Regions from separate parts of the Homo sapiens genome. Here region 2 is linked to region 1. Evidence: fine-mapped expression QTL. Tissue or cell type: blood mononuclear cells. Region 1 holds a variant in brackets; the other region holds the start of a gene. All regions are shown on one strand. Distances are between the middles of the regions.

Region 1 (2,678 bases):
CTTTTTTTTAAAAAAATAAGCGTGACTCTCAGGGGATGTCTGCACGGGAACCCATGTCTCTGCTGCCCCACAAACACAGCAAGAGCCGCGAGCACGCGAATGCATGGCCAAGTTGGGAGGTCAGAAGGAGGGATGGGACCAAAGGAGGGAGTGTGTGTTTTTTTTTGTTTGTTTTGGTTTTTTTGAGACGGAGTCTCGCTCTGTCGCCCAGGCTGGAGGGCAGTGGTGCGATCTTGGCTCACTGCAAGCTCCGCCTCCCGGGTTCACGCCATTCTCCTGCCTCAGCCTCCCGAGTAGCTGGGACTACAGGTGCCCACTGCCACGCCTGGCTAATTTTTGTGTTTTTAGTAGAGACGGAGTTTCACCATGTTGGCCAGGATGGTCTCCATCTCCTGACCTCGTGATCTGCCTGCCTAGGCCTACCAAAGTGCTGGGATTACAGGCATGAGCCAACACGCCCGGCCAGGGAGTGTGTTTAAGAAGTCACGTGGCACACGGGGTGGAAGCAGAGGTAGATGGTCCGCCTGGGTGCTGAAGGCCCTTTCAGAACACAAAGAGAAATTAGGAGAATGGGCAGTGCAGGTTTTTGGGAAAAGAGCTGGTTTTTGTTGAAAAAGCAGAGGAAACCCCAGACATTGCATGGGTTTAGGCCTTAGCCTCACCACTGTCGAGAGCCTCCTGCCCAGGAGGGCCAAATTCTAACCTCCAATCTGCTTGGTGAGGACCTTAAGATCCTTTCCACCCTGGCAAGCCACCTGCCAGGGTGAGCTGAGAAATCAGCCAGGGGAGCAGAGTCACTTATGGCCAAGAGGAATTGTTCTGGGGTTTGGTTAGTAAGCAGGAGAAAGAGGAGAAGAAAACTGCGTATGGGGGTTGAATGCCTCTAGCAGAAGAAGGTGAGGCATAGAGGCCTCTTACCACTAGGGAACATATTGGAGTCACGCAGCAAAGTATGTTAACAGCAGAAGTTACCCAAGTCACAGAGCACCAACATATGCTATTGGTGGCAGGAATCCGAGCTACCGGTGGTGAGTCTGTAGGGGTCTGCAGCAACCTCAATTCTTGCCTCCTCAGAAGAAAGAATTTGACTGTGGGGCACAAGGCAGAAGGAGAGACCGAGGCCAGTTTCAGAGCAGAGGCAAAGGTTCATTAAAAAGTTTTAGAGCAGGAAGGAAAGGAAGGAAAGTGCACTTGGAAGAGGGCCAGGCGGGC[G/A]ACGTGGAGGGCAAGTGCCTCTTTTCTCTCCTTGATTGGGTTTTCTCATTGCTTTTCTATTTTATTTTGATTTCATCCCCAAATAATTAGCTCCTAGACTTACTTATTTGTTCTAACCAACCTGAGTCCGTTCATTTTTGCTTCTGTCTTTACGATCTGACCCTTTGGGATGTGGTCGCCCATCATCCCCATGGCAGGCAGGGAGCCGTTTTGACAGCAGCATCTCCCTCTCTCACTCCCACCTGTGGAGGACAGCCTCGGGACTGGCCCAAATGCCAGCATTTGCTCTCCTGCCTATTTCCCAGGCCGTGGTGAGGGGCTTTTCCTCAGGGTCTTCATGGGGAGAGTCAGGGGATGAGTGCCTCTCTCCTCACTTTGCACTCCTTCCTCTATGTCATGCCAAGGCACTTCAGCGGCTCAGCCTCCAATGATGGAGGTGACTCTGGAGCTCAGGCTTCAATCAACCAACGAAGAAAAATGTTAGAGACACTTCCAGCTTTTTCTTTTTTTTTTTTTTTTTTTGAGATGGAGTCTTGCTCTGTCGCCCAGGCTGGAGTGCAGTGGCGCAATCTCCACTCACTGCAAGCTCCACCTCCCGGGTTCACACCATTCTCCTGGCTCAGCCTCCTGTGTAGCTGGGGCTACAGGTGCCCGCCACCATGCCCGGCTAATTTTTTGTATATTTAGTAGAGACAGGGTTTCACTGTGTTAGCCACGATGGTCTCAATCTCCTGACCTCGTGATCCGCCTACCTCGGACTCCCAAAGTGCTGGGATTACAGGCATGAGCCCCCACGCCCGGCCACTTCCAGCTTCTTGAACTAAAAATATTGAATTCAGAATCTCTTGTAAATGCACACAGCTCAACAGACTCTAATCTTTAAGTTTGTGCTTCCCTCCCAGGTCTAGTGTTTGCAGAAGCCACCCACCCCCACACACACACCCCCAGTCTTCTAACAATATAAATGACAAATCTTGCAAACCTTTTGATGTGTAAGCCTTCTTTTCCCAAATTAGGTTTGTGCTGATACCCCTGGGACATGCCGGGATCTGATTGTAATTGCAGGTTTGGAAGTGGTGAGGTTGGTAGTGGTGGAGTGGGATGGAAATCAGCACCTGCTTGCAAAGTAACCACATCAGGTGAGGTCACAGAGAGGTCTTCAAACAATGCAGGACCAGACCCATCAAACAGGGGCTACTTCTCTTGGTGTGATTGTCAGGGTATGCAGCTCATCGCCCCCCTCCTGATTCTGGGGTCCAACACCTTCCCAGTCCATGCCCTGATTCTCACAGAAGAGACCTGAGGGAGGGTGAAAGTCCGGTCTACATTGGCATTCAGCAAACCTCCCAATAATGCCCTGAGGCTGACCTGAGGGCACACCAGACTCAACAGCCTTAAGAGAGAAGAGATTCTTTCAGTGATGATGGAAACCTTGTTCTCTGACCAGGCCTTGAGCTCAGCATTTG
Region 2 (2,678 bases), 130 kb after region 1:
CTGGCCATTTGTATTTCTCCTGGAAACTGCTTATGCCCGTTACCTTTTTCTATGGAAACAGACGGCTGGGACAGAAACCACGGCCACAGCAGCCAGCGTGTCTTTGCCAGTGGGGTCCCACACTATGAAATCGCAGCTGTGGCCTCGGTGGGTGTGTCCTTGGCGGGTGCATCCACACACTTTCTCTCGGAACTTTCCGGACTCTCATGCATATGCTACAGCTTTCCAAACGGCTTGGCCGTGCGGAGTTACGCACCCACCTGCAGCAGGTGATCTCCAGCTGCTCTGCATTCCACCAACACTACGTGACAAGTCTCAAGTTCAGCCGCCTGGGGGCTCGGGCACCCCATTCCTGGGAGAAATGATGATTTGTGCACTCTGGGCCATTGCATGGTGTCTGTTCACGTCCTTTGCCCGTTTTTTAAAAAACTGGGTTGTCAGCCTTTTCCTTCCTGACTTGTAGTTGCTCCTCCATCCTGGAGAGTCCTTTGTTGAAAATACCGCAAATATCTTCTGAAGAGGACTCTCCCAGGGAACATTCACTACAACTGTAACGACCACAGAGACACAGAGCTCCTGTTCACTGTTTAGCCCAGGACTGCGGTGACAGGTGCACCCATGACCCGAGATGCTGGCTGCGTCCTGTGGGGTTTCCTGCATATGGAAGTTTTAAAAGTCTAAAGCCTGGCGGTCCAGGAGGTTGCGTGTGTGTCCTCGGGGAGGAACCCTCCTGACAGCCAGGCCTCTGGAGCTTCGTCTGCACGCGAGCTTGGCATGCACCAGCTGTGCGGCCCAGGCCAGGTGACACGGCCTCTGAAGTCTGGTCTCCTCATCAGCAAAGCCAGTGCCCCATGCCACGCACCTCCCAGGATTAGCCCCAGGCCGGGAGGCTAGAGGCCCCACAAGGAGCGAGCCTGCGACTGCGATCCACAGGCAGAGCCACAGAGGCAGGGCGCGCCCTGGGGCCCAAGCTCCAGGGCTGCAGGCCCAGGGCCAGATCCTGACTTGCCCACCCGCCGGCTGTGTGACCTTCAGCGCGCGACTAACCTCTCTGTGCCTATTTCCTCGAGGAAAATGCCGGGAAATAGCAGCGCCTGCCCCTGTAAAGCCCTCAGAGCAGAGTGGACCGCGCTCTCTGCAAGCGCTGGCTGCTGGCGTCCGTAGCAAGCTAAATCGCGAAGCATCTGAACGAACGAGGAAGCCCAACGACCATCCCACAGGCCGCGGCCAGAGGCAGACTCCGGAATGCAAATGGCCAAACAAGCAGGTCCACCTGCGTTCCTAACCAAAAGATCGCTAACTGAAGAACGGGCGCAAGCACCTGCGCATGGCACTGCGGGTCTGGGGGCGGCCGCCTGCCAGCGCCGGGAGCCGCCTTCCACGGCTACCTCTGCACAGCGCGCGGCTCGCGCCGGTTGCTGGGCAGAAGCTCGAGCAGCTTCGAGGATGTCGGGCCTGGGGGCGGGGCCGCGAGGCAGCGACGTCGCGCGGGGCGCGGCCCTGACGCAGCGTGACGCACCGGCGCCGCGGCGGGTACGGGCTCGGGCGGGCGGGCGGGCGGGACGGCGCCCCCCGCGGCCGGGCCTGGCCGGGCTGCGCTAGGCTGGGCTCGGGCAGGGTCGCAGGGGCGGGGGTGGCAGGGGAGCGGGTGGCAGCCCCGCGGGTCACAGCGCCGCCGCCGCCCATGCTGCTGCCCCTAGCCTGCCTGCACGGCCGCGTCGCTCAGTGCCTGACCTCCTTGCTTTTGCTTGCAGAGCCGCTCCCGAGGCCCCGGCGCGGCGCGAGGGCGCGGGGCGCGGCGTCCACAGGCGCCGAGGCTGCCCCCGCCGCCCCGCCCGCGAAGATGGCGGCGGAACTCTACGCTCCCGCCAGCGCCGCGGCCGCGGACCTAGCCAACAGCAACGCCGGCGCCGCCGTGGGCAGGAAGGCCGGGCCGCGCAGCCCGCCCAGCGCCCCCGCGCCAGCGCCGCCGCCGCCCGCGCCCGCGCCGCCCACACTCGGCAACAACCACCAGGAGAGCCCCGGCTGGCGGTGCTGCCGCCCCACGCTGCGCGAGAGGTGAGCCCGTGCCCCGCGGCCCCCGCGCCCGCGCGCGCCCACGCCCCCAGCCCGTGCCTCTACCTTTGCAGGAACGCGCTCATGTTCAACAACGAGCTCATGGCCGACGTGCACTTCGTCGTGGGGCCCCCGGGGGCGACCAGGACGGTGCCCGCCCACAAGGTGGGTAGCGGCGGCCCCTCTCGGAACGCGTGCCCCGTCCGCCCCGTCCGCCGTGTGGCTGACACGCAGCCTGCGGGAGAGCCAGGCTCACGGCGGCGCTTTCTCCTCCCAGTACGTCTTGGCTGTCGGCAGCTCCGTCTTCTATGCCATGTTCTACGGAGACCTGGCGGAAGTCAAATCTGAAATTCACATTCCAGACGTGGAGCCCGCAGCCTTTCTGATCCTCTTAAAGTAAGTCCACTCTACTGGGGAGGGACGGGTGGGTCCGTTTTAGGCGGCCTCCGGAGGCTTCTGAAGGGAAGCACACAGGAGCTGATGGACTCCTCTCCCAGGCCCAGCCCCGCGATGGGTGCTTGGGAGCCAGCCCCTGACGCGGGCCCTGCCTCGCCTAGGTACATGTACAGTGATGAGATCGATCTGGAAGCCGACACGGTGCTGGCCACTCTGTACGCTGCTAA

What was found. PIP is the estimated chance that this variant, and not a neighbour inherited with it, causes the effect.
Region 2: BTBD6 starts here. The variant in region 1 is fine-mapped to the expression of BTBD6 in blood mononuclear cells (TOPMed, PIP 0.94).

The regions. Positions count from the first base shown.
Region 1 is chr14:105,114,662-105,117,339 of GRCh38, forward strand. No RefSeq gene overlaps it. Among named protein-coding and RNA genes, the nearest start is that of LINC02298, 22 kb to the left of the region's middle. The variant G/A (reference allele first, on the strand shown) is at 1,213.
Region 2 is chr14:105,247,028-105,249,705 of GRCh38, forward strand. BTBD6 (BTB domain containing 6) reads left to right here and starts at 1,506. Exons shown (of 4, transcript NM_001387567.1): 1 at 1,506-2,058; 2 at 2,130-2,220; 3 at 2,333-2,451; 4 at 2,613-2,678. The coding sequence starts at 1,685. All of the region lies in intron 5 of BRF1 (BRF1 general transcription factor IIIB subunit), which reads right to left. RefSeq lists an enhancer at 1,132-1,922 and silencers at 1,298-1,857, 2,058-2,107.